Homo sapiens: one gene and its partners. The protein of the gene in region 3 purifies or fractionates together with the protein of the main gene of each other region. This does not show direct contact. Each region holds a gene or a part of one and is shown on either strand. Other genes may lie near its edges.

Evidence for each region.
Region 1: the proteins of SETD6 (region 3) and GFPT2 purify together in Homo sapiens (co-immunoprecipitation; one large-scale study listed by IntAct). This does not show direct contact.
Region 2: the proteins of SETD6 (region 3) and SLC25A16 purify together in Homo sapiens (co-immunoprecipitation; one large-scale study listed by IntAct). This does not show direct contact.
Region 4: the proteins of SETD6 (region 3) and MYO9B purify together in Homo sapiens (co-immunoprecipitation; one large-scale study listed by IntAct). This does not show direct contact.
Region 5: the proteins of SETD6 (region 3) and SLC25A29 purify together in Homo sapiens (co-immunoprecipitation; one large-scale study listed by IntAct). This does not show direct contact.
Region 6: the proteins of SETD6 (region 3) and RHBDF2 purify together in Homo sapiens (co-immunoprecipitation; one large-scale study listed by IntAct). This does not show direct contact.
Region 7: the proteins of SETD6 (region 3) and TLCD3A purify together in Homo sapiens (co-immunoprecipitation; one large-scale study listed by IntAct). This does not show direct contact.

What each region holds. Positions count from the first base shown.
Region 1 is NC_000005.10:180,304,837-180,308,336, reverse strand, and holds part of GFPT2 (glutamine--fructose-6-phosphate aminotransferase [isomerizing] 2), read left to right. Parts: intron 1-1,033; coding exon 1,034-1,161; intron 1,162-3,397; coding exon 3,398-3,500. UniProt on the Homo sapiens protein: Controls the flux of glucose into the hexosamine pathway. Most likely involved in regulating the availability of precursors for N- and O-linked glycosylation of proteins.
Region 2 is NC_000010.11:68,524,724-68,528,758, forward strand, and holds the start of SLC25A16 (solute carrier family 25 member 16), read right to left. Parts: upstream 2,801-4,035; 5' UTR 2,653-2,800; coding exon 2,523-2,652; intron 1-2,522. UniProt on the Homo sapiens protein: May be involved in the transport of coenzyme A in the mitochondrial matrix. Very little is known about the physiological function of this carrier.
Region 3 is NC_000016.10:58,518,517-58,521,429, reverse strand, and holds part of SETD6 (N-lysine methyltransferase SETD6), read right to left. Parts: coding exon 2,887-2,913; intron 2,707-2,886; coding exon 2,401-2,706; 3' UTR 473-2,400; coding exon of another isoform or gene 394-472; 3' UTR 248-393; coding exon of another isoform or gene 113-247; 3' UTR 1-112. Other genes in the region: CNOT1 (CCR4-NOT transcription complex subunit 1), read left to right, coding at 113-247, 394-472. UniProt on the Homo sapiens protein: Protein-lysine N-methyltransferase. Monomethylates 'Lys-310' of the RELA subunit of NF-kappa-B complex, leading to down-regulation of NF-kappa-B transcription factor activity. Monomethylates 'Lys-8' of H2AZ (H2AZK8me1).
Region 4 is NC_000019.10:17,074,586-17,078,576, reverse strand, and holds the start of MYO9B (unconventional myosin-IXb), read right to left. Parts: upstream 2,801-3,991; 5' UTR 2,703-2,800; intron 1-2,702. Other genes in the region: HAUS8 (HAUS augmin-like complex subunit 8), read left to right, coding at 3,155-3,183. UniProt on the Homo sapiens protein: Myosins are actin-based motor molecules with ATPase activity. Unconventional myosins serve in intracellular movements. Binds actin with high affinity both in the absence and presence of ATP and its mechanochemical activity is inhibited by calcium ions.
Region 5 is NC_000014.9:100,303,645-100,307,718, reverse strand, and holds the start of SLC25A29 (mitochondrial basic amino acids transporter), read left to right. Parts: upstream 1-1,274; 5' UTR 1,275-1,486; coding exon 1,487-1,520; intron 1,521-1,942; coding exon of another isoform or gene 1,943-2,059; intron 2,060-2,110; exon of another isoform or gene 2,111-3,068; coding exon of another isoform or gene 3,069-3,084; exon of another isoform or gene 3,085-3,701; coding exon of another isoform or gene 3,702-3,711; intron 3,712-4,074. UniProt on the Homo sapiens protein: Mitochondrial transporter of arginine, lysine, homoarginine, methylarginine and, to a much lesser extent, ornithine and histidine. Does not transport carnitine nor acylcarnitines. Functions by both counter-exchange and uniport mechanisms.
Region 6 is NC_000017.11:76,498,624-76,502,829, forward strand, and holds the start of RHBDF2 (inactive rhomboid protein 2), read right to left. Parts: upstream 2,801-4,206; 5' UTR 2,730-2,800; exon of another isoform or gene 2,253-2,729; intron 1-2,252. UniProt on the Homo sapiens protein: Regulates ADAM17 protease, a sheddase of the epidermal growth factor (EGF) receptor ligands and TNF, thereby plays a role in sleep, cell survival, proliferation, migration and inflammation. Does not exhibit any protease activity on its own.
Region 7 is NC_000017.11:731,276-735,395, reverse strand, and holds the start of TLCD3A (TLC domain-containing protein 3A), read right to left. Parts: upstream 2,801-4,120; 5' UTR 2,749-2,800; coding exon 2,627-2,748; intron 2,299-2,626; coding exon 2,215-2,298; intron 1-2,214.

The DNA of each region.
Region 1 (3,500 bases), on a different chromosome or scaffold from region 3:
TAGTGTTGTTATTTTAAAGTGAATATTTTTAAATTTCTCATTGTTAGTTTCTTTCTTTCTTTTTCTTCTTTTTTTTTTTTCGAGATGGAGTCTCGCTCTGTTGCCCAGGCTGGAGTGCCGTGGTGCCATCTCAGCTCACTGCAAGCTCCGCCTCCCAGGTTCACGCCACTCTCCTGCCTCAGCCTCCCGAGTAGCTGGGACTACAGGCGCCCGCCACCATGCCCGGCTAATTTTTTGTATTTTTAGTAGATACCAGGTCTCACCATGTTAGCCAGGATGGTCTCGATCTCCTGACCTCGTGATCCGCCTGCCCCAGCCTTCCAAAGTGCTGGGATTACAGGCGTGAGCCACCGCACCCAACCACGCCCGGCTAATTTTTTGTATTTTTAGTAGAGACGGGGTTTTACCATGTTAGCCAGGATGGTCTCGATCTCCTGACCTCATGATCCACCCGCCTCGGCCTCCCAAAGTGCGGCGATTACAGGCGTGAGCCACCACGCCTGGTCCTCAGTGTTATTTTCTAATCTGGTAAATGTTGACAGATTTAACTCAAAAACAAAGGCTCTTGGGGATGTGCAATAATTTGAGGGACTTGCAATAATTTTCAAGAGTGTAAAGGAGTCCTGAGACCAAAGGGTTTGAGAACCGGTGGTCCCACTTACAGGGGCCTTGTCTTGAGACACAGCAGGAAAGAGGGGTGTTAACTGGTGGTGTCAGCTCTGTCTCCAGTGGGTGATTTTTGCCTCTCTGAGCCTCAGTTGTCTTACCTGCAAAACGGAGTGAGAAATGGTACTTCCTACCTTGTTGGTGCTCAAGAAAGTGTTCACACAACACGAATCCCCATCCTAACAGAATCCTGGCCAGGAGCCCAAGTTATTTCCTGTAATCTACGTTTGAAACGAATGCGAGGAAGCAAAGTGTGCTAAGTGATGCGGTTTCAAAAGCTCCTCTTAAACCCCAGCATTTGTCTTCATGAATATTGCTTTAAAGTCGGCCTGACTGGTTTTCTCCCTCTGCTCCGTGCATGGCCCAGAGCTGATCAAGGAAGTGCTGTCTCTGGAGGAGAAGATCCACGACTTGGCCCTGGAGCTCTACACGCAGAGATCGCTGCTGGTGATGGGGCGGGGCTACAACTATGCCACCTGCCTGGAAGGAGCCCTGGTGAGCCCCCACCCCCAGCCCCCACCCCCACGGAGGACAGGCACAGGAGACCCTGAGGAGCCAGCGGGAAGGAGGGCAGGGCGTTGGGCTTGGGGAGGGCCGGGCCTAAGGACCCCTTGGCCAGTCCTGTGAGCCTGCGCTGAGCACCAGCTCTCCACCAGGTTTCTAGCCCTGGGCACACAGAGATGGGTGAGGCAGGTGCCTGCCCCCAGGGATCTCCCAATCTACTGAGGAGAAAGGGACAGGGCGCCTGGGGTGTGCCCCTCCGGCTGTCCAGGCACTGCCAGGGTCCACTTGGAACAGCTCACTCAGACCTCATGAGCTGCTTCTGAGAGGTTGGCGGTTGCTATTCACCCTCATTCAGGAGGAAACAAAGCCTCTGAAAGCTTAAGTATCTCACTCAAGATGACGTAGGGGACCCGAATCAGACCTGAGTCCATGGGGCCTTCGCTTTTTTCCACCAAAATTGAGGGGTGGGTTCTCCGCAGAGTTTCCTTGTTACCCCTCAAACTTCCAAGGGGAGTTTGAGATCCTGCAGGAATTAACTTCGAAGGCCTTGCTTTTTCAAAAATTGGTGACAGGCCATTTGCCCCCTGCAGCATTAAAGATCCACGCCAGGAAAGAGAAAGCTGATGGGGCAGGGACAGGGTGCCAGGGCCACAGGGCTGCCCAGAGGGTGGGCAGAGAGCCGTGCAGGGTCCTGCATCTCGGACTTGCCCTTTCCTCGCTGTCAGCATGCCATGCACGGAGCAGATGCTCAGCCCAGGTGACGGGGACAGTGCTCCAGCTGAGGCTGCACTGGCCACCAAGACGAGGGCATTAACCGTGGCCCAGCTGGGCTGCCATCCTCTCCCATCTCCTCCCCACCACCCCCATTTGAAAGACAATGCTAGGCTGGCACAGTGGTCCACGCCTGTAATCCCAGCACTTTGGGAGGCCAAGGCAGTCAGATCATTTGAGGTCAGGAGTTCGAGACCAGCCTGGACAACATGGTAAAAGCCCATCTCTACCAAAAATTCAAAAACTAGCTGGGCGTGGTGGTGCACGCCTGTAATCCCAGCTACATGGGAGGCTGAGGCAGGAGAATCGCTTGAATCCAAGAGGAGGAGGTTGCAGTGAGCCAAGATCATGCCACTGCACTCCAGCCTGGGAGACAGAACGAGACTCCCATCTCAACGAAAAAAAAAAAAAAGAAAGAAAGAAAAAAAAAAGAAAGACAATGCCAGTTACAAGTGGTTACCGGAAACATTCAGAGTTGATTTCCTTGGTCTTGGTGGGGAGTGCAGGGCTGTCCTCACTGAGCTCCATCTCCTGCACCTGCCCCCTGGAGATTCTGACTCCTGTTAAAGAACAGGCAGGTGCTGCTTCTTGGAGTGCAGTAGAGGCAAGGCCTGGGGTGCACTGTCAGTCCCCAGATGACTCTGCGTCATGGGTGGGGGCTGAGCTGCGGTGGCTGAACGTGCTGGCGGGAGATGCACATTGCAGCTATGCCTCCGCATGAGTCTGCTGAAGGAAGAAGCGTTTAGGTGGCTGCTGGCACGAGCCCATGGTCCTCTGGTCACTGGGAGGCCGGCACTGCAGCTGTCTGCGCCTCCAGACTGGAGCCGCACTCCTTACAGTGTGGCCCTGACCTAAATCAGCAGTGCTAGCGGGGAGTCGAGAGATGATTTATTTGACTGTCTCACCATTTCAATGACGTGGATTTGTGGTAACTGAATAGAGATGGATCTACCTGAACACAGGAAAAAAATTAATTCAAATAACACCCCAGTTTGTGTGATTTTGCTTGGAACCACTCTTTAGAAGTTATTAATGGGCAAATGCTTAATCAGATAATTAACTGAAGGTGTAGCTAAGCTGAATACGATGCTGTCGTTATACACGTGGCTGGCTAGGGAGGAGCAGGGGGTGAGCTAGGCTGACTCCGACTTGTTTGTCCTAAGGGGTGGCTGTGCGTGGGACTGGAGAGAGACAACAGCAGTGCCCGGGGCTGGTGTGGGGACACAGAGGTTGTGTCCCGGGCTGGTGCATGCTCTGGATGGTAGCCAGGCCTCTCCCCAGGCCCTTGCTGGGTGTCCTCAGTGCTGTCAAGCACTCCAGGCATCTGTCTGCCTTGCAACCCTTGGCTCTCTGCCTTCCAGAGTCATCCTTCCCCTGGTTCCCCTTCTTCCCCTCTGGCTGATCTGCTCCAGCCCCATCTGCCCAGTGTGACTCTGATCTCACCTCCTGTTTCCAGAAAATTAAAGAGATAACCTACATGCACTCAGAAGGCATCCTGGCTGGGGAGCTGAAGCACGGGCCCCTGGCACTGATTGACAAGCAGATGCCCGTCATCATGG
Region 2 (4,035 bases), on a different chromosome or scaffold from region 3:
AAAAATTAACTGGGCATGGTGGTGCACGCCTGTAATCCCAGCTACTTGGGAGGCAGAAGCAGGTAAATCACTTGAACCCGGATACGGAGGTTGCAGTGAGCAGAGATCGTGCCGCTGCACTCCAGCCTGGCCGACAGAGTGAGACTCCATCTCAAAAAAGAAAAAGAAAAAAAATTAGCCAGGCATGGTGGCATTCCCCTGTAATCCCAGCTACTTGGGAAGCTGGGTCAGCAGAATCACTTGAACCCAGGAAGCAGAGGTTGCAGTGAGCCAAGATCACGCCACTGCACTCCTGCCTGGGTGAGGGAGTGAGACTCTGTCTCAAAACAACAACAACAACAAAAAAAACTTAATACTGCTGCAGTCTTCAGATATTATCTTTCTACAAATCCTCATAATGTGAGGTTTTTTTTGTTTTATTTTATTTTGTTTTTGAGATGGAGTGTCTCTGTCACCCAGACTGGAGTGCAATGGCAGGATCTCGGCTCACTGCAACCTCCACAGTGATTTAGGCGACTCTCCTGCCTTAAGCCTCCTGAGTAGCTGGGATTACAGGCGAGTGCCACCACGCCTGACAAATTTTTGTAGTTTTAGTAGAGACAGGGTTTCACCATGTTGGCCAGGCTGGTCTCAAACTCCTGACTTCAAGTGATCTGCCCACCTTAGTCTCCCAAAGTGCTGGGATTACAGGCGTGAGCCACCCTGCCCAGCGAATTTTTATTGTTTGTTTTTGTTTTTTTCTTCTTTTAGGAGAGGGTCTCTCTCTGTAGCTCAGGCTGGAGGGTAGTGGTGTGATCATGGCTTACTGGAGCCTCGATCTCCTGGACTCAAGCAGTCTTCCTGCCTCAGCTTCCCTAGTAACTGGGACTACAGTAGTGAGCCACTGCACACAACTTCAATGTGGAATTTTTAAATTTTTGAATCTTAAATAATTAAGTAATGACAACCTGTGGGGAAAAGCAAGAGAGATCAGATTGTTACTGTGTCTGTGTAGAAAGAAGTAGACATAGGAGACTCCATTTTGTTCTGTACTAAGAAAAATTCTTCTGCCTTGAGATTCTGTTAATCTATAACCTTACCCCCAACCCCGTGCTCTCTGAAACATGTGCTGTGTCACAGAGTTGAATGGATTAAGGGCGGTGCAAGATGTGCTTTGTTAAACAGATGCTTGAAGGCAGCATGCTCCTTAAGAGTCATCACCACTCCCTAATCTCAAGTACCCAGGGACACAAAAACTGCGGAAGGCCGCAGGGACCTCTGCCTAGGAAAGCCAGGTATTGTCCAAGGTTTCTCCCCATGTGATAGTCTGAAATACGGCCTCGTGGGAAGGGAAAGACCTGAACGTCCCCCAGCCCGACACCCGTAAAGGGTCTGTGCTGAGGAGGATTAGTATAAGAGGAAGGCATGCCTCTTGCAGTTGAGACAAGAGGAAGGCATCTGTCTCCTGCCTGTCCCTGGGCAATGGAATGTCTCGGTATAAAACGCGATTGTATGCTCCATCTACTGAGATAGGGAAAAACCGCCTTAGGGCTGGAGGTGGGACCTGCGGGCAGCAATACTGCTTTGTAAAGCATTGAGATGTTTATGTGTATGCATATCTAAGAGCACAGCACTTAATCCTTTACATTGTCTATGACGCAAAGACCTTTGTTCACGTGTTTGTCTGCTGACCCTCTCCCCACAATTGTCTTGTGACCCTGACACATCCCCCTCTTCGAGAAACACCCACAAATGATCAATAAATACTAAGGGAACTCAGAGGCTGGCGGGATCCTCCATATGCTGAACGCTGGTTCCCCGGGTCCCCTTATTTCTGTCTCTATACTTTGTCTCTGTGTCTTTTTCTTTCCTAAGTCTCTCGTTCCACCTTACGAGAAACACCCACAGGTGTGGAGGGGCAACCCACCCCTACACAACCCAGAGAAGTAATTAAGGAAGGGTGGAGCTTGAAGGCCCAGGAAATTCCTAAGAGACAATATGAACTTTTTGATCCCAAAGTCACATCAATAATAGGGCTTGTCAAGTACTGTGTCACAGTTTACTAGAATCACTGGAACCAGTTTTGGCTGTAGACAGTTTGCACAATTTTCCAGTAGTCATTAAAAAGCTGATCTCCAATATTTGTTTTCCTTTAAGCAAACAGCAAAATCCAAGTCTACACTGGGTCACTCACGGTTTTTATAAAAGAAAGGAGTGCCCAGCATGTCTCACTAAAACCCCAGGGTCTCTGTAAGGGATCCTCCTCTTTTCCCTGTTATCCAGCCCTGAAGAATGGGTGCCTGATTCAGACCTTCCACCTCCCCAGCCTCTGCCGGAGTGCCAAAGGTCCCACTCCCCATAACCTAGCTGTCATTAGTCAAGTGATTACTAGAAAGAGGTTACAGCAGGTCAGGGCAGACATCTAACAGAACATTGAAGCAGCCAGAGTCCAGGAATGTCATAGAGGCCGCTTGCATCCCACTTGCCCACAGTCCTGCCCCCGCCACTCAGAGCGCGGCTGGCTCTTCGTGGCATGGACCCACCTCCGGCCAGAAAGGAGCGCAGCCAGTAGAAGTCTCTGCGGGTTGTGGGCCCTCCGGCCCCTGCCGCCTGCGGCATTGCGGGAGGGGGATCGGCCGCCGCCAGGGCTGCCGCGGCCGTCGCCGCCGCCATCAGGACCAGGGTCGCGTCAGGAGCCTAGGTTGCCAACTTACAGAACACCGGACGGGACCATAGCCGGAACAGGCGGTGACAGGAGGCTGACCGCCCCGCCGGCGGGGCAAAGTAACACCCGGCGGCGCGGCGCCGGCTGATGGCGTACAGCAAGGGCGGGGCCTGTGTCACGCGCCAAGGGGCTCTGCCGGGAGGGGCGGGGCCAGGACGCGGAACAGGGCGTCACCCAGGCTCGTAAACTCCTCCATCCCGCCTCACCCGGCGTTGCCACTGTCAGTTCACTGCTCAGGCCCCTTCTGTTCGGACGGAAAAAGGAAACGGTAGGCAGTGAGATGGTCCCATTAAAACCCACAACCTGGCCGGGCGCGGTGGCTCACGCCTGTAATCCCAGCACTTTGGGAGGCCCAGGCGGACGGATCACTTGAGGTCAGGAGTTCAAGACTAGCCTGGATGCCGGGCGCCGTGGCTCACGCCTATAATCCCAGCCCTTTGGGAGGCTGAGGCGGGCGGATCACAAAGTCAGGAGTTCGAGACCAGCCTGGCCAATATGGTGAAACCCCGTCTCTACTAAAAATACAGAAATTAGCCGGGCGGGGTGGCGGGCACCTGTAGTCCCAGCTACTCGAGAGGCTGAAGTAGGAGAATCACTTGAATCCAGGAGGCAGAGGTTGCAGTGAGCTGAGATAGCGCCACTGCACTCTAGCCTGGGTGACAGAGTGAGACTCCGTCTAAAAAAAAAAAAGACTAGCCAGGCGAACATGGTGAAACCCCGTCTCTACTAAAAATACAAAAAATTAGCCAGGCGTGAGGGCGGGCGCCTGTAATCCCAGCTACTGGGGAGGCTGAGGCAGGAGAATTGGTTGAACCCAGGAGGCGGAGATTGCAGTGAGCCTAGATCGCACCATTGCACTCCAGCCTGGGCGACACAGCGAGACTACGCCTCAAAAAAATAAAAAATAAAAAGGCCCACAACCTTAGAAAGCTCTCTCCTGTCTCGTCCCTTGACCTATATTGACCACTGACCAGTAATCGCCTATCGCGCTTTTTTTTTTTTTTTTTTTGAGACGGAGTCTCGTTCTGTTGCCCAGGCTGGAGTGCAGTGGCGAGATCTCTGCTCACTGCAACCTCCACCCCCTGGGTTCAAGCAATTCTCCTGCCTCAGCCTCCCTAGTAGGTGGGATTATAGGCGTGCAATACTACCCCTGGTTACTTTTTGTATTTTTAGTAGAGACGGGGTTTCCAACGTATTGGTCAAGGCTGGTCCGAACTGCTGACCTCATCGGATCCGCCCTCCTCGGCCTCCCAAAGTGCTGGAATTGCAGGCGTGAGCCTCTGCGCCCTGCTCTCGGAGCTGTATTCTGACCTCCCTAAGATGCAGCCTTT
Region 3 (2,913 bases):
ACTTTTGCATGTGGTTCAATAGTCAGGGAGAAGTTAGAAAAAAAGTAATGGAAGAATAATCATGAATTTGTATGCTTCTATACATTAACTAGCTCTTTCTCCCTTTTTCCAGAGTTCTCTTGGAACGGTTGATTGTAAATAGGCCACATCCTTGGGGTCTTCTTATTACCTTCATTGAGCTGATTAAAAACCCAGCGTTTAAGTTCTGGAACCATGAATTTGTACACTGTGCCCCAGAAATCGAAAAGTGAGTTCAAAGTAATTTTTAATTGTCTAGGAATGAGACTGGAGACTGAAAACCATCTGTCTCTAGGTTGGGTCAGCTGAATGAGATGCAAGGTATTGTTAGGCCTACTCTTTAATCAGAGATTTGTAACTGTCTTCATCCTTCAGGTTATTCCAGTCGGTCGCACAGTGCTGCATGGGACAGAAGCAGGCCCAGCAAGTAATGGAAGGGACAGGTGCCAGTTAGACGAAACTGCATCTCTGTTGTACGTGTCAGTCTAGAGGTCTCACTGCACCGAGTTCATAAACTGACTGAAGAATCCTTTCAGCTCTTCCTGACTTTCCCAGCCCTTTGGTTTGTGGGTATCTGCCCCAACTACTGTTGGGATCAGCCTCCTGTCTTATGTGGGCACGTTCCAAAGTTTAAATGCATTTTTTTGACTCTTGGCCAAAATTTAGAAGATGCTGTGAATATCATTTTGAACTTGTGTAAATACATGAAAGAGAAAACCTTTGTCTGGAACTTCTTGGCTTTGTGCAAGCTGTGTCCAAGGCAAGTACATAAACTGGTACCTTGTAATGAAGAGGCAGCTGATGCCATGCACTTGTCTGAGGGCATAGCTCCATGTCTTCTGACATTCCTGGTGTCCCAAAGAATAGCAAAAAGCCAGTTTGAATATTATGTAACTTATTTTTTTAATGTGGACAGGGGACCTTGAAAATCACTAAGTTATTAAAAATGTGGATGTGCTAGAATTGGATATGTCCAGGAACATGGGAAGGGCTCACTATTGGAATCCCATGAGTTTCCATTTTGTCTCTACCCAAACGTATTCCAAAGCTGACTGCATTTGTACCATCTTATTTCTTTTGGGGATTATACACCTCAGCCGCCTGAGATGGGGGTCAGCTCTTTATATAAAGGGAAACCAGACCAGGCCTAAAGCCCACCCCTACCCTCACCCCCCCAATCCTCTCCTGAAACTTAAAAACAGTGGGAATATAGGAAAGGGAACCAAATCTCATTAATTAATTGTTCTCCCCCATTACCCCACTGAATGAATGGCCATACAGGCTAAGCTGAATAATGACAAAGTTGAAAGGACCAATACAGCCCCTTTTATAAGGATTTTGAATGTTTTGCAAATGTATTGGTCCCTGTGTTGTATTTTGTAGCCTTTTCCTGGGCTTCAGCTCCCCTACTTCTTGTATGTGTATGCATACTGTAGCTAACCATTAAAGTCATGACACACACATGAGTCCACTGTGCCTTTCTCAGTAGCAGCAGCCAGTGCTGGTGGTGAGGAGGAAAAGTGGACAATCCAGCCCTGCAGACCTTGGGGCCATGGGGAACCACCAACTAACTTCTTGCTGAATGATTGATTGATTGATTGATAGGTCATTCCTACTACTAAGCTGGCATGTTTAAGGAAATTGTATTTTTCTTCCTATTTATTTCAACACTGGACAAATGCTGGAGCAGGTTTATCTGGTTAAGCTGAGTTTAAAATACCCAGTTTTAATATCCTTTTCCCCCAGGTATTTTTTTTTTTTTTTTAAAGAAAATGAGTAGATACGTATTTAAAAACTTAACCCACTTAAAATTTGCCTTACCTTTCATGACTGTCAAGTTTTATGGCCAGAGAGGACAAAACAGTTCAAAATTAAATAATTGAAGTCCTCCTTGAGTGATGTCTTAGGGTTTATTCCCTGAGAGGTGGTTTGTGCCATCTAGACTGAACTTTGGGTAACTATCGAGTACCAGTTACACAGCTTATTAAATCCAGAGTCTTTTCAATAAAGGTTAAGTGACTTCCTCAAACTAGACTTAGATTTAAACCAGGGGTCTACCTCCAAAGTCTATTATTAAATGCTGAAACACAACAAGACTTACTTATTACTACCGTATGTCCACTGGCTTTGGTTAAAACTGAGAACAAAACATCTGTAACATGCTTTAAGTAACAATTAGCAGTGATTCCCAAGTCTGCTGTTCTCAATCCTAAAACACATCACCCTTACCTGAGTTAATCCTAGCACACCAACTTTGCTACTTTTCCTCTTGGTGTTTAGTAAGCAAAAGAAAGATCCAAATTTTCCTCTTTTTCAAACATCAATGAGTATTAGCTTAGAATAAAGTTCTTATTGCTGTTCCTTCAGGGAACAGGGAAACTGCTAACTTGTCAGCTCCAACAACTGATGTAAGATCATCTTCTGACCATAGCGAACCTGTAAGGCTTGCTGTTCCCTCCAGCTGAGTTTCGCATAGACTTCCTTATTACTGAGTAAACCTTGGTCAGTTTTTAAGTCTGTGGCATAGGTCTGCAAAGTCAGTAGAACACTGTTTTGAAGCAGCTGTCTCCACGATGCTTTGAGCTTGGGAATATTTGTGATCGTCAGGCTGCCCTCTTCCCTTTTATCATCTCCCCCTCCATCCTGGTCTTTAAGCTCTCTGAACTCCTCAGCAGGCATGCACAGTACCTAGAAGCAACCACAGAGCTCTTTAATTAGATGTACTGCTTTTGTACTTCTGAAATGACTCAGGAGACTAAACTCATCTTAGCATTTATTAAAAATCCCACATTTCCTCTCTCATCTTCTAGCTATTTTGCTTTAAATACTTAGATTATCAGCATTAAATGGCCATTTTCAGCCGTTTACCTTTAGTGTGGTGGTCAGCTCCTCTTC
Region 4 (3,991 bases), on a different chromosome or scaffold from region 3:
ATCTGAATTCCATTCTTTTTTTTAATTATTATTATTTTTGAGGGCATCTTGCTCTGTCACCCAGACTGGAGTGCAATGGCGCAATCTTGGCTGGCTGCAAACTCCGCCTCCTGGGTTCAAGCAATTCTCCTGTCTCAGCCTCCAGAGTAGCTGGGACTACAGGCGCACATCACCACGCCGGGCTAATTTTTGTATTTTTAGTGGAGACAGGGTTTCTCCATATTGGTCAGGCTGGTCTTGAACTCCTGACCTTGTGATCCACCCACCTTGGCCTCCCAAAGGGATTACAGGCCTGAGCCACCGCGGCCCAGCTTGAACTCCATTCTTTCTGAAGAGGAAGTGCAAAGTTGTCGGGGGCGGGCATTAGCGTGTCCGTCCTCTGGGTCATAAGGATTCACCTCTGTCCCCAGGAATCTACCAAGTGTCTGGCACAATCAACCCTTGCCTAACTGAAATCTAGGCCCACCCAAGACACACCATTTGGAAGAGATGAGGAATGGGAAGCAGCAAGTTAACAAGTCCATGTGGGGAGAGAATAACGAATCCTACAGCCAAACAGAAAGGGGAGATTCCCACGTCTCTACCTGCTCCACTGAGTCACCAGACTGGACCCGAGGGACGGTACTGCCTCGGGATTTCCAGAAATTTGCAGTTTCCAAAGCTTTGGGAATAGGTGCAATGTGCAAAAGCACCTTCAACACCGCAATTTTCTATTTGGACGATGAAGAAGCGGTTGAAAAAAAATCATTTTTGGATACAAACTGTCGAATGGAAAACGGAATAAAAGTAGGATCATCGCAGCCAGGAATGGAGAGTGGGGGTGCTGTGAGGAGTTCAAGGCCGGGAGCTGGGGGACATGGACTGGAGACAAGACGGTGATGAGAAGAGTTGGGTTTCAAGGTTGAAAAACGCTGATGGAGGTCAATTCATTCATTTTGCAGGTGAGAGGTCAGAAACAGGCACAGAGACTTGACCAAAGCCAGGATCTCCAACACAGTGCTCCCCCCACAAGACCCTGCTTGGCCATTCTCTAGCGGCAGGGAAGAGGCGATTGCAGGGCTGCGGGATCAGAAGATCCCGGTCCTGTTCTGTAGGCCAGTGCAAGCCTACAGTTCAATGTTTGCAGGAGGCATGACTGTGGGCTGTCACTGCATGTCCTGGGGCAAGCCAGGCCAAAGCCACCTTTCCTAAAGGCCAGGATATTCTGGAAGTGAAGGGGGTGCTTATCTTTCTGTGGCCCTCTTTATATTCCAGCTATCCGGGTTCATCTCCTGAATGAGCTATAAACTAAACATAAGCTGGGGTTCCCCAGCCCTTCTGGCAGATCCCAGATAAAGATCCCTACAGTTGGGAAAGGGGAGAAATGAATGCCAATCAAAAGCACCCTGCACAAAGTCCCTGCCAGGGCCACAAGAGCCAGGCCTGTCAGATGTGAATAACTTTCCTGTAGCCCAGGTCACCTCCGGCTGCTCCTGGACACCTTAAGATTCTGAAGACTCCAACATCAAAAAACAAACCGAGTTGGGACTCTCTGGCTGGAAAGTGTCCCCACGGGCTCCCACCTCAGACAAAGAGGCAGAGAAGCCATCCCTTAAAGACCCCTGGCCTCCAGGGTGCCCAGGAAAGAAAGGAGGGCTCGTGGCTGTCGTGCCTCTCCAGGGCTGAGCTCAGAGCAACCGGGGGACAGATTTCCTGTATGTCGTTTTACCCATTTAAGTCCAAGGATGCAGCTCTGCGGAGGTGGCGACAGTCCTGTACATGAGGGTGCATGCACACTCCCTCCTGAAACACAGTTCCGGCCCCACAACCGGCCCTGAGGTCCCTTCCTTGGATCCAGGGAATCCCAGAATCCTGCTAGTCCTGTCTTAAGGGGAGGGTGGTGAAGTTTCCAAGACGAGGACACTGGCACAGAGGGTGTTGGGACTCGTCCCAGGTCACCCAGCTGTTAAGTGTGAAGTCAGGAGGGACACGAATCAAGAGGGGAGGGTGGGGGGACGGAATCTCCAGGGGCTGCATCTCAACATCTATCTGCACGGGGCCACTCTAACCCCTTCCTTCTCTTCCCTCCTCTCCGGGCCCTCCCTCCCTAAGCCTACCCTCAGTTCTTACCGTGACTTCTACTCCGTTTACTTCCCTTCCAGCTCCCATTTCCCCGCTTCCCAATAGCCGGCTGCCGCATCAGTTAGTTCAGAACCCCCCGCATTTACTGAGCGCCCACTGGGGGCCAGGCGCCGCCCTCTTCTCAGACACCCTTCCTTCAATCGCGCGGGCAGACGTCCCCAGATCGGTCTCGCACCCCTTCCCCTCAACCGCACCCCGGCTGTCCCGCCCCTGGCCTTGCCCACTCCCCCAGCCTGGGCCTCTCGTTCCCGCCTCCGTGCCTCCCCACAACGCCGTTTCCTGCGACCCCCCAATTACCACTTAAGCCACGTCCTCTTCAGAGAAGCTGCTCAAAGCCACAAGACTCACCCCCCCCACGCCCTCGAACTCCCTCACCAGCTCCATCCCCATCCACTTTCTCCTTCACCGTCTCGCTTCCACCTCATCCCCAGCAATCTCTCCAAGACCCCCAGGCTCGTTCCCGCCCCCTCGACCCCTGCCGTCGCGTCCCCCATCAGCCCTCAGCTCCGTCCCTCTTCTGCGCAGCCCCCAAAGGCAGGCTTCGAGCTCGAGTCGCCAACCCGAGGCTGCCTGGTACTCACCTGGCCTCGGCCGCCGCGCGCCGCCGGTCCCGGGCCGGGTCCCCGGCCGGACGACCGCCTGCCAGCCCGCCGCTGCTCGAGCCGCTCCGCCCCGCCGCGCCCGCCGCTCCCCCGCGCGCTCCCGCTTCCGGGTTCCGGAGAGGCGGGGACGGGGGCGTGACGCCAGCGCTCCTAGGGGCGGGGCATCGCGAAAAGCCCCGCCCCTACTGTCCGACAGATCAGGTCCCACCCACCGCCCCTACCCACTACCGCCGATGGTGGGCGAGACCAAGTGCGAGGGGAGGACAGGCGAAGCGCGCGTCTGGGGCCGCGCTCTCCACACTTAGCCGGCGCTGCCTCACGCCTCGCAGCCACCCCTCCTGCGTCTCCACAAATGGTCCGACCCGCAAGCAAGGGGGCGGGTCCGGCTTTGAAAAGCCGGCGGGTCGGGCCTTGAGGTGGAAGGCGGGAAAATGGCGGATTCCTCGGGGCGAGGCGCTGGGTGAGTTGGGGCTTCCGCAGGTCTGGATTTGTAGACGCCATAGGGCTGGAGAGGATGGGCAGCGGAGGTGGGGAGTTAGGACCCTCGGGGTGAGTTCGGGTTCGACCCCGCCAGGAACTGCGCGGGCCCCTGAAGACCCCGATGGCGTGCTGCCTCTGCGCATGCTCCGGAGCGCTGACACCCGACCGGCCCTGAGTTCCGCGTCCTCGGCTGGGACGCTGGGCGACCTCCGGCAAGCGGCCTGACCGCCCAGTGCCTCGCTTTCCTCCGCTACGAAATGGGGCCGATGACGCAGCTCAACCTCGTAGGCGTCGCGTGAGGCTGAAACGCGCTTAGATCGGCGCCTGGGTCTTTACTGTGATGTCGCTCTTGGAATTATCGTTATGCAGTGAACAAGTGTTGGGCGACCAAAGTGTCCCCTTTAATCCTCCCACGCGCTTTATTCTGTGCTCCCAGTTTACTGAGGAGATGATGGAGACCCAGGGAGGGGAAGTGACTTGCCTAGGGTAACACACCATGAACAAGAAAGAAGTTGAATACTGACCGAGAGCTAGGCATGAATGATCATGAGGCTATATTTGTCTAGTTTTGTTAATTCTGCCAGTGTTGATTGTGCCAGGTGCAAACTGAAGTGAAATTGGCCAGCAAGAGGAATCACTCCACCGCCCCTTGCCGTAACCGATAGATTGACAGTAGCACCTCCCAGGTACAGGTGCAGTAGCTGAGGCTCGCACAGGTTGTAGGGACCCCCCTCAGGTCGCAGCAGGTTCACCCAGGAGCCCATTCGGTTTGAGGCCACAGCCCTAGC
Region 5 (4,074 bases), on a different chromosome or scaffold from region 3:
CCTCCAGGAGGTAGGTACCCACTGGAATTTGGATAAAAGAACCATGTGACCCTAAACCTGGAAACGTGGCACACGGTGTGGCCTTGCCTGCCTGCAGGCCCTAAAGAAGGAAGCTGGGCCCGGCCTAAGGCTGATCTGACTCCTACAGCGAAGAGAAAGCGCCTGGCCCGTCCCTGCTCCCAGGCTCCAACCTGACAGTCTGGACCTCCAGAGGCGCTGGGGAAGGGCTGGTGGGAAGTCACCGAATGGGACGCTCCACAGGGACCAGGGCAGTCCCTTGCCACTGCGAATGTCAGGGACTCCTGGGGGGCCGAGTCAGACTCGGCTCTCATTCATCCCCGCAGCCCATGGATACCCTGGTGACCCAGAGCCAAGCACCCTCCGACTTCAGCGCCTGAGCGCGGCCCCTACCGAGCCCCTCCGGTCTCGCCCCGTCCGGCCGCCGCTGACGGAGGCGCTGCGATCTGGCCCGACTCCACTCTGCAGCCCAGTCCAGGAACCTCCCTCTCTCCACAACCTTCCGCGGCTCCCGCGACCCGCAGTCCTCGGGAAGGAGCTGTGGCCCGAAGGCCTGCTGCGCCCTTTGCCCATGGCCCCTTTCCCTTTTAAGGTTCCCTGCTCTCCGCCCAAATCCCAGCCTCAGGCTCCGCAGGAAGCGCCCGTGCGCGTCCGACCCCCAGAACCCGGCGGGTTCGGCCAGGAGTCCGGAAGCCCCGGAGGCCACCGCCGCCGCGGGCGCGCAGGCGGGACGGGCAGAGGCTCCCCACGGGCGATTCCCGCTCGCGGAGTTTCGCAACTAGCGGCGTCCCAGTCTGCGGGCCTCGGAACGTCCCGGCGCTCCACGGCCGTTTTCGCGGCAGGGTCCGCACGGCACAGACTAGGGCGCTGAGGTTCTGCGGCGGCGCCGGACTCCGAACCCAGGGTCCGGTTCCCGACCCGGTCCAGACCAGAGCCACCCCGCGTACTCCGGGTGGGGGAGTCCTCGGCTCAACCCCGCCACCCCGCGCGTCCCCTCCCGCCGGACCTGCGCACCCAGCGCGCTCTTTGTCTGAGGCGTCCCCGCGCCCCGCCCGCGCGCCCACCACGTCCCCCGCGCCCCGCCTCCCGCGCACGCCCGGCCAATGAGGCGCGGCGGCGAAGCGCAGTGCCCGGGGTGTTGTCCGCGCCGTGCCCGCCCATTGGCCTCACTCGGCGCCCCCACCCGGGCCCTGCCGGCAGGCACGAGGGGCGGGGCGCGCGGCCCGAGGTGAGGGACCGCGGGCCGGAGGGGATCCAGCGAGTCAGCTGCCGCCGAGGGACCAGCGCGGGTCTAGCTGCTGCCGCCATCCCCACCATCCCTGACCGCGCCTGCCCGGGCTCCGCGCCAGGAGGAGCGGCCAGGCCCAGCCCCGGCACCGCGCGCTCGGGGACCCCGACGGCGCCCAGCCCGGCGAGGGGCCTCAGGGGGAGGACGAGGAGGAAAGGCGGCCTCGCCGGGGACCCGGCCATGGCGCTGGACTTCTTGGCTGGATGCGCGGGGGGTAAGGAGGCGGCGGGCCGGGCCGGGCCGGGGCGAGGCGTCCGGGGAGGGAGGTCGGCCCACCAGCACGCCCTGGCCTCGCGGCTTCCCGCTGGCGGGGGTCGCCGCGTCTGTGAATGGGGACCACAGTTCTCTTGCCTCGGGCGGGTCTCGTGGGCGTAAATTGACTTCAGGCCCGGGCTGTCCGCGAGGGCAGGTGTCTTTATTCTCTCTGGGCACGCTCGGACGGGAGGTCTGGGGCGCCGGGGCAGCACCGTGGCTGAGCGGAGGCCAGGACTGCCGGGAGGATGCCCCACTGCCCCCCGCGCCGAGGTCCCGGGCTCATCTCCTTCCCCTCCCCCATCCCCATCCGTTGCGCACTGGGAGCAGGGTCCCCTCCCCCGGCCGTATATTTCGGGACTGACTCCACCCCGTCCCGCGCAGCCATCCAGCGGGGTTGGGGCTACGGAGCCGACCCCCTACTCGGCTGGCCTTGGAGGGCACTGAACCACTCTGGCGCCGAGTCACGCCTTGGAACGCCGCCCCTTCCTACGCGGTTTTGTGAGCTGTTGGGGGCGGAAGGGGGGTGGTGGGTGGGTCGGGCGAGCCGGTGTGGGGCACCTTCTCCGAGGCGCGGTCGCGGCTCTGGGGTTCCTCCCATGCAGTTGTCCCCGGGAGGGCCCGGGCGGGCGTGCAGTCCAGGCTCTCCCATGCCCCGACCGTGGGCGTCGGGCACGGCACTTCCCTGTTGGGCCTCTGGCTTCTCTGCTTTTACCTTGAGGGTTAATTTATTCACCAGGATTTAGATGTCGGGGGCGGGGGAGGGTGGTTGGCGGCGGGAGTTGCTGAGAGGGCCGGCCGCTTATCCCTGTTTGGTCCCACTTTTCTCCCAGCACCTGCCCTTGTTCACCGCCTCTTCATCTACTTGGATTTGGCTCGAATAAACCCTCAGCTCCCGGCCAGCGCTGAGAGCCCTGGCGGAAGAGTGGGTAGCGGTGGCCTTAAGTATTAAATCTGTGGCGTCGGAGCCTGCTTCTTGGGGGAGAGACTCGTTGAAAAGGGAGTGTGTTGGGGAGGTGTTGTGCGCTGAGGGGAGTTAGAACTTCCCGGTCGGTTACCCAGTGGGAAGCTGCGGGGCACAAAGCCCAGAATTTGCTGCTAATCGCTGGGTGCCCTGGAGACAGAGGGGGCGTGTCCTCTGCGGATTCCATTCTCACCTTCCCCTCCCGCTTCTGATCTCGCTGTTTGCTCCACCCTTGCTCCCCACCCACTATCAGCTCCAGCGGGTGGGGGTGAAGGGCTGTCCCCAGGCCAACACCTCCTTCCAGGCTTTGGGGAGTGGGGATTCTTTCCCCGGATGGGCAGAGTTCCTTCTGCAGTGGCGCTACCGTCCGTGCTGCCCTCCTGGAAACACCGGGGTTTGGGGCAGGAACACTTCACCTGAAAGCAGGCCTGCTTGGCGCCTCCCGGCACATCTGTGGTCTCCTCTGCACGTCGCTCGCGCAGCCTCCTTGCCTGGAATGTCCTTCGCTGCCCATCCTCATAGGCCCACCTGGGAGAGATCATATCCATGCCCCCTGCCCCAGGTTTGTGGGTCAAGGACTGGCACTGTCTGGTGCTGTAGCACTGGGGCACAGGCCACCCCCCTGCCCCCAGGCCCTGCTTTTCGTGCAACCCCCAGGCACATAATGGCCACCCAGCTAAGGCTCTACAAGCGTAAGCCTGAGCCTCCCAGGTGGACAAGGACAGAAGTCACCTGGGGGCTCACTCCTGGTCTCATCGGAGAAACCTAGGCCCAGAGAGGTGGGGGTACTAAAGCAAAGTCACACCACATGCTCCTCTGATGGCCAGGGTGAGCCTGCAGTCCTCTCCTCTCCCCCTTACTCCAGGGTGCTGGGGTGGCCCCTCAGGACAGTGAACTGACTGTGTCCCAGGCTCCAGGTCCCTGGCACAGCTGGGGTCACACTGACAGCCTGCCCAGAGGCACCCCACCTTGGGACCCGTACCCCAGCAGCCCCTGCCTGGCTCCTTCTTGGGGTGCCCCCAACCTACAGGCTCAGGGCAGATAATGCCAGTGCTTCTCCTTGGTGGCTGGGGAGGGGGACTGTCCACCCCCTACTATTCGCCTAGTGTGGGTCACGTGTTTTAACTTCTCAGGGAGGCGGGGCCAGCATCTTGACTGACAGCATCCTTGAGGCCTTGCATGGTGGAAGGTTTGGAATGCCTCCCCCTCTCCCCTACTGGGGGATCAACCCAAATCTTGAGGCCACATAGACACTGGGCTCTGGATGGACAGAAGCAGGCGCAGAGAGAAAAGCTCAGCTAGGGGTGGGAGAACCCGGGAGGAGAGGTAACCCCAAGAGGGAAGGGTGCCTCTTCCACTACCTCTGCTACCAGCCATCCCCAGGACAGTGGTTCCTCCCCACCCCGCCCAGCCCTGAGGACTACTGGTTGGGGATTGCCTCCGGAGCCCAGCTTAGGGAGGACAGTAGACAGTAGGCTTTGGAGTTGGGAGACAGGGTTCCGCTTCTGCTGGTGTGACTGGAGGCCTCCTCGTGCGCTCAGAAAGGTGGTGA
Region 6 (4,206 bases), on a different chromosome or scaffold from region 3:
TGGAGAGGCCACCACAGTATCCAGAGCTGAGGCCACAGGAAAAACAGCACCACTGACCCCAGAGCAGGACTCGGGCCCCAAGTGCGTCACCCAAAGCATTTGTAGTGTGATTTATTCCTCCTCTTATAGGAACAAAAGTCCCCCTCCTGGGCTGGAGAGAAAGAGAGTGTGTGTGTGTGTGTGTGTGTGTGTGTGTGTGTGAGTCTGTGTGTGTCTGTGTGTTTGTGTGTGTCTCTGTGTGTCTGTTTGTGTGTGTCTGTGTGTGTGTGTGGTTACACCAGGTACAGACAGGTAGGAGTCACTGAGGGTTTGTTCGTGGGGCTCTTGGGTGGGGCCTGAGGGTGGGCAACTGGGTTCACACCCGAGCTCCACTGCCGACTTCCTGAACAACTTTGTACAAGCCTGGGTGCTCAGCCCTGTCCCTTGAGAGGCTCACAGCAATGGAGGCCACTTTTGTTTTTTGTGCAAATGAAAAGGTGGGAGTTTCACTTCAGCCTTTTACAGTCAAGAGACCAAAAAAACAAAAACAAAAACAAAACAAAACAAAAAAAACAAAAGCCACCAACACCAACAAAAAGAACCCAAGCTCGAAACCTCCACCAGGGTTCCCAGGCAAGAAGGCTGGGTCCAGAAGTGAACAGGATGGGTATAATGGCTACTGCAAGAAAACAGGGAGGGAGGGCAGCGAGGTGGCCCCAGCTCCTGGGCATGGACGTGGCTGCTTCATCCGATCCTCTCCCACCGTGCCAGCCACCCCTCCTTGTTGCCAGAAAACTGGAAGTACATTCCTCCAGCCCAATACAAACAACTCTGAGTCATCCCTACTGGGGGGCCACCTGGCCTGTGCTTTGATGTCTCCCATCTCTCACCTCTGCTCAGCTAACACCATGGGCAGGGGTGCCTCCACCCCATCAGCAGCTGGGCCCACTCCAGGGCTCGTCAGCTAACCCAGGGTGCCCTCTTTATTGCAGGACAAAAGCAGCCTGGGGACCCCCCAGGAATTAGGAGCCCTGATACTCCTTGGATGTCACTTTCAAAAGGTGTACATAATTGGAGGAGTTAGGTGTGAGTTCAGAAGGGAAAATTCCAGCAGGTCACATGGTATCAGGCAACCATGCCAGCTTCAGCAATCCAGCTTTGGGAAAATCTATGGGAAGAGAGCTCGCCCTCTGCCCACCCTCCCAGCCCAGGGATATTTGAGCTCAAGGGCTGCCTCAGCCCAGCCTTCCTGGGAGATTGCCCTGGGGTTAAGCACCCCAGGCCTGGGCTGCAAGGGGGTCCTCTGTTCCCAACCTCTCCCCCACAGCACCTAGACCAGCTTCCTGCAGGGCCAGTGGAGATTGGGAAAGGCGGTGTCTCATGGCACCAAAGGAAGACTCTTGTGAGGGGAATAAGTGCCCTCACACTGCCTTACCCCTCATCTCATTCAGGTTTATTCCAAGTTCCTCCCCTAACCACTCTGGAAAACTGAGGTAGTTTCCCCAGTGAGGGAGCATCATTGAGAAGGAACCTGATGGACCAGCTGCTGCGCAGGGTTTCTCAGCCTCAGCACAGCCCAACACCTTGGGCTGGATAATTCCTCGTTATGTGGGCTGTTCCGTGCCCTGAAGATGTCTGGTAGCGTCCCTGGCCTCTACCCACTACCTGCCAGTAACAACAACACTCACTTCCCCTCCCAAGTGTGTGACACCCAAAATGACTCCAACATTGCCAAATATCCCATGGCAGGCAAAGTCGCCCCTGGTTGAGAACCACAGCTCTAAAACACGCCTCCCTTTCCACTGCCTGCCCTACGGACAGTGAGGGTCGAATAAGGCAGATGCTGGTCTCATTATATTACCAGCAAATGGCACACACTGGGGGCCTGATGCCAGCCGCCCAGGCAACAGCAGCCTCTCCCCAAGTGGGGTCAGCTCCCCACCGCCTTCTGCTCCTCAGACACACCCGCTGCCACCCTCTCAGTAGCTCCAACCCTAGAGCCCCCTCCGTTAATCTTTCATGGAATGGGGCAGGGCCAAAACCTAGGCTTCCTTTGCGCCCTGGCGTGGGAGTGGGGCGGGGTCTGTACCCTAGGGAACTTATCCGTCTCTATCCCAATGCCCTGGGGGAACATCCGAGGGGCCAAACAGGTAAAAGGCAAGCCCAGGGCCAACCTTCCCCAGCCCCTCCATCCAGAAGTCAGGACTCCTGGGTCCAATTTCTGAGCTCCGGTCCAGCCCTGCTGTGTGAGTCCCTCATCCCCACCCCCGCACCTGTTTCCACCTTGGCTGGCTCAACCAACAAACTTCGGCCCCGGTCCGCCCGGTGCTCACCCGGGAGAAAGTGGAGGGGAGAGAAGGGTCTGAACTGCAGGCACTTCTGGGACGCAGGCGGGACTGCCCTGCGCAGTCTCCTCTCTTCCTCCGGAGGTTTAAATCTCTGCCCAATCGTCTTGCCCCTACATCTGGCGCCCCGTCGCCCAGGGACCCCTTAGGCGTCCTGTCCGAGCCGAGCCCTAGGGGCCAGCAGACCGGGTCCAGCGGCCCCGCCGGCGCCGTCTGAGCCAGCCCGGGCCTCCAGCCGAGCCCACGTGGGACCCAGGCGCTCCGCAGGGCGGGCACCGGGCACTGGGCACCCTTCCTGGCCGCGCACCACCGCTCCAGGGCAGGCTCGGGCACAACCTCGGGACCCTTCCGGCGCCTGCGGCTGGGCGGCCGTGAGTCCTGCCCCGCTCGTCGCCCCGCGCTCACCTCCCTGCGGCCCCAAGTCCCCGGGACGCAACTCCGTGCGGCGCCTGCGAGCGGCTGGGCGGTGGCTCCTCGGGGGCGGGGCGGCGGCGCTCCGCCTCTTCCCTACCTGCGCGCGGGCGGCCGGGAGGCGGGGCTGGGCTCCAGGGGGCGTGGCCGGGCTCATGGGGGCGGGGCCTGGACGCAGTCTTTGCTCAGTCGGCTTCCTGGGTTCCTGCCTCCGCCCTCCACCCAGCTGGGTCCCCGCCTGGGCAGAGCCCTGTTTTCGCCTGAGCTGGTCTCTTCAGGGCGCCGTCCTTTCCCTCTTGGCGTCCTCACTCCACCCCAGACCAAACACGTCATCTAGGTCTTGATTGCCGTCTTCAAGTCGCCCCTCCCCATCAAGAAAAAGCACCCAATCTCCCATCCCCTTCTTCCAGCGCCCTCATCCTCAGGCCAAGTGGGCCTGTTCCCTTGACCCTTTTAGTCTGTAGTCACACTCTCTCCGGGAAGCTGGGCCTGAACACCTCCTCTCCCTCCTGGACCCTGAGGCCTCTCTCCTAGCTCTGCTGTGCCCTTGGGTTGGGAACAGGCACTCCGTGGAGGTCCTATCTGCATTTGCCCTGCAGCTAAGGCCAACATTTGTGACTCCTGCCAACCCCCTACACACCCCGTAGAAGCATTGACAGAACCCACCCAGCTCTGGCCCTTCCAGCTGCCATGCGGGCCAGAGCCAGACTGGAGATTGGGGACGCTGGCGACACCTGGCCCCTTGGCTTGGGTCTGTCTGCCCAGGTGGTTCCTTCTCTCTTCCCTGGACTCCAAGGGCCTGCCTCTTGGGACTAGACAAACAAAACCTTGGCCAGGGCAGCTAGGACCGAACTCCAAGGTCTGGATGCCCCGTTCTCAGCCCCAGCGCTTATCATCTCGCCGTCCCTCTCCAGGAGGCCTGGCTAGGCCAGGAGGAGCAGAGTTTGAAGAGACTCAGGCTTGGAGGGGTGGGGGTGGGGTTGTCAGGGCCAAGGCAAAACCTCTGGCCCTTAGAGAGCTCCTGAGCCACCCTGCCCCCCAACCCAAGGACTCTGGTGTTTATTGCTGACCTGGGTGGAGGTGGGGAGCACCTGGCTGCTGGAGATTATCCTGAGAGATGCATCTCTCCTCCCCAGCTCTGGGGCCATGAGGAGGGCACAGGCTGGAAGGAGGGGGAGTGGGCCAAAGCTGGGGTGGGGGTTGCTCCTAGTAACAAATGTAAGGGACCATTTATTGTGCAACCAGCACATCCTGGGGTTATGTGCAGAGAGGAACAAAACCAGGGCCTGCCCACGAAGTGCCAGCATTCTACAGGGAGACGTTGGAACTCAATACTGTAACAGGAAGGGTGAGAGCAGCTAGCCATTCCAAAGTGCTTTAGTCTGTATAATCCGCAGTACAGGTCTATGAAGTGGGTACCATTATGATCATCCCCATTTTAGGGATGAGAAAACTGAGGCAGAGGGAGATG
Region 7 (4,120 bases), on a different chromosome or scaffold from region 3:
CTTTGTAAAATGAAGATGATAATCCTTGTCTGTCTTACCTGTCAAAACTGCAGTGAAGATTAAATAATTAAATGTGGGAAAGTCGGCCGGGCACGGTGGCTCATGCCTGTAATCCCAGCATTTTGGGAGGCCGAGGCGGATGGATCACCTGAGGTCAGGAGTTCAAGACCAGCCTGGCCAACATGGCTTTACTAAATATACAAAAATTAGCCAGACGTGGTGACACATGCCTGTAACCTCAGCTACTCAGGAGGCTGAGGCAGGAGAATCACTTGAACCTGGGAGGTGGAGGTTGCAGTGAGCCGAGACCTCACCACTGCACTCCAGTCTGAGTGACAGAGTGAGACTCCATCTCAATAAAAAGAAAGGCGGCGGGGAGGGGGAGTCCTTTTAAATGTTAAAAGGTACTATACAGGCTGGGCACGGTGGCTCACACCTATGATCCCTGCACTTTGGGAGGCCTGAGTGGGAGAATGGCTTGAGCCCAGGAGTTCAGACCAGCGTGGGTGACAGAGCCAGACCCTGTCTAAAACAACAACGTACTATCTGAATTAAGTACTTAAATTGAGAAAACCACCTGGAGCTGTGACTTTGTCATTTTAGTGTCTGAATCCTTTAAGAATCTGACTAAATCCTTGGCCCCATACCACCTTCTGCCTATAATTTGGGGGGATTTTTAACTCCTTCTATCTAATCGCATTCTATGTGAAGGCATAAAATGAGAAGGCATATAATAGAAAAATATTCAGTATATAGTATATGAACCCTGAAAGGCCTTTTTTGGCTGGGTGCAGTGGCTCACGCCTATAATCCCAACACTTTGGGAGGCCCAGGCAGGAGGATCGTTGGAGCCCAGGAGTTCAAGACCAGCCTGGGCAACGCAGGGAGACCCCTGTCTCTACCAACAACAACAAAAAAAAGTTAGCCAGGTGTAGTAGTGTGTGCCTGTAGTCCAAGCTTGGGAGGCTAAGGAAGACGGGTGGCTTGAACCCTGGAGTTCAAGACTACAGTCAGCTGTCATTATGCCACTGCACCTCAGCCTGAGGTCTCGACAGGAAAAAAAAAAAGTAAAAAATTTGCTGGGTGTGGTGGCTCATGCCTGTAATCCCAGCACTTTGTGAGGGTGAGGCAGAAAAATGACTTGAGCCCAGGAGTTCAAGACCAGCCTGGGCAACATAGTGAGACCCTGTCTTTAAAAAAAAAAGAAGAAGAAGAAGAAGAAAAATTGTACCCAGCCACACCAATATTAACCTTTGGTGTCTACAATCGATGTCACTTGATCTATCGTAGCATCTACTTATTCATCGCCAATAGCCAGTTTTGTTTTTAAAAAGGCAGAAGAAAAGCACAAAAATCATGACAGCAGGATTGATCCCAGGTAAGACCGCAGGCTAGAGTGAGACGGACAGCTTGCTCAGGCCCCTCGCAGTTCAGTCTCAGCAGGTGAGAAGCAGGACTTGGCAGAGCCCACAGGAGAGCAGGGCCTGGAAAGGCCGTTCAACTTCCTGCACATCCGACTGTGGTCCTTCAACTTGGGAGAAAGTGAGTGTGATTCCAGCAAGACCGGTGGGGAAAAAAAAGGCTTGAAATAATAAAAGCACCACCATTGTCCAGGTCTAACTACTGTACAAAGTCGACTATTCTGGTCTTAATTTATGATTTGTTTCACTGGAACTGCAGATAGGTGCACATTTCCTGACCTGCCTCTGGACTGACCTCTGATAGACGTACAAGTCCGTGTTCTAAGCGCTGGGAACCTCTCAATCACCTTTAGCAAATCTGCAGGAAAAGCAAGAGCGGCGTTTGCGTGGAAGGGGGTGGTGGGTTGGTTCCTTTCCATGGAGGGGGCTCTGCTAACCACACTGGACGTCTGTTAGCCAGTGATGCTCCAGAGTGAGAACCCAGTGAAGCCAACTGCAAGAATCAAGCCACACTCCCAGTCGTAAATGCTTCCACGCTTATCTCTTCCATGAAGGACCTGGATCCCTGGCTCACACCACCTGAAATCAGACTCCGACTCTGTCGTCCTCCCTCATTTCCGTGGACTTTCTCCTAAGCTGGGGGTGCCCGAAGACTCCGGAGAGGAAGAAGGAGCCCATTGTGGTGCCAGCTTTTCCCATTAGTCAGCTTTCTGAGCGCGTGTGCTGCGAGAGCCAGAGCCTGCGAGCTACTGAAATGTGACATTTGCAACAAGGCCCCGGCCCGGGCTCTTACCTGCCGGTGATCACGTCGTCGCAGGAGCGAATGATGACGATCCCCGAGCCGGTGGCCAGCACGGCGTGCACCGAGGAAACCAGCCTAGCGCGGGCGGAGAGAACAGCGCGCGCGCTCAGTCCGGTCCGAGGACCGCAGGGAGCCCGGCCCGGCCCTTCGGCCTGACTCTCCCCAGCCGCAGGCAGATGTGGGGAGCGGGCTCCGGAGGCTCATCGGCCATTCCCGCCCGCCCCGGCCCCGCTCCCGCCAGGGGAGGACGCGGAGGGGCTTCGGAAACTCGGGCCGCCGGGACGCGGAGGGAGCAGCCCCCGGGCTTCCTGCCGCCCCCCTTTTCCGCCCTGGGCCCCGCGGCCGGGTGGGGTGCGGTGGGCAGCGCCCCGGGCCTCGGGGGGCGTCTCGGCGGCGCCGGTACCTGGTGCTGATCATCACGCAGTCGGTGCGGCTCCATCCGGGCTGGGAGCGGCGCAGCGCCCAGGTGCAGAGCGCGAAGAGCCCCGGGAAGAAGAGCGCGCCCCCGGCCAGCGTCAGCAGCATCGGGGCTGCGGGTCCGGCCGCCTCGCTGGCGCCGCGTGGCTGGGTTCGGCTCGGCGCGCCCCGGCCCGGCCGCGCGATTTCAACCCTCCGCCCCCGTCCCCGTCCCGCCTCCGCCCGGCGCTGGCCCCGATCCCGCGGCGCGGCTCTGCGCGTGACCAGGCCCGGCGGCTGCGATAGGGCGGGGCGGGGTCTCTCGCGGTCCCTGGGCCCGGAGGGTTCCCCGGCGTCCCCGGCGGGCGGGTGGGCGGGGGCGGAGGCGGGGACCGAGGCGGCGGCTGTGGCCGGGGCCGCGGCGCGCGCGCGTTCCGAGTCCGCCGCTCCCTCCCGAGCGGCCGCGGGGCCCAGGCGGAGGCGGGAAGGGCCGCGGCTCCCGGCTTCTGTTCCGTCAGCGGACGCGCCCCTCCCCGACCTGCTCTTCTCGCCGGCCCCGGGCGAAGGGGCGGGGTGGGCGCGGGGCCGAGGAAGCCAGGTAGGAACCCCCTCCGGGGTGGGGCGAGGCCCGCGGGGAAGGAAGGAGGGAGGCGGCGTGTGGCCCTGGGTTCGCGGGCCCCGTCCACCAAGCCCTGGTGCTTCTCGGTGGGAGGCCTCAGGATGTGGCCTCTCCCCGCACGGCCGAGATGCTTTTCCCGGTGCCGCCAGCGGCTGCAGCCGCTCCGGGGTGGCCCTCAGGAAGCGTGAGGTCCGGGGGCCTCCAGCAGCCCCTCTCCACCTGCACCAGGAGGCGGACTGTGGAGGCTGCAGGCTCTTACTGCCTCTCGGCTTTGGATCTATCCGGAGACACCATCCAGAGGCGTAGGGACTGTGGTGTTGTTCACAACGTGTCGTTATTTAAAAGTATCGGGGTCGGGCGCGCCTGTAACCCCAGCACTTGGGGAGGCCGAGGCGGGCAGATCACTTGACGTCAGGAGTTCGAGACCAGCCTGACCACCACGGTGAAACCCCGTCTCTACTAAAAATACAAAATTAGCCAGGTGTGGTGGTGCCTGTCTGTAGTCCCAGCTACTCTGGAGGCTGAGGCAGGAGAATCGCTTGAACCTGGGAGGCAGAGGTTGCAGTGAGCCGAGATCACGCCACTGCACTCCAGCCTGGGCCACAGAGCAGGACTCTGTCTCAAAAAACAAACAAACAAACAAACAAAAAAACAGTTATCGGGACAGGCGTCTAAACTTGAATGAATTGGAATACATTTCATTTGTGCCAAGCACCAATCACATGGATGAAGACAGGAATTTCAGTATCATTGGCTTCTGTCCTTTAGGAACTACCAGCTTTATTTTGCTTTGGTCTGTATCTTCCTCAGCTAACAAACGTAGGGGGTGGGAAATACAGTTCATTTATGTTACTACAAATGAAAGGTATGACGGGTCTCCTC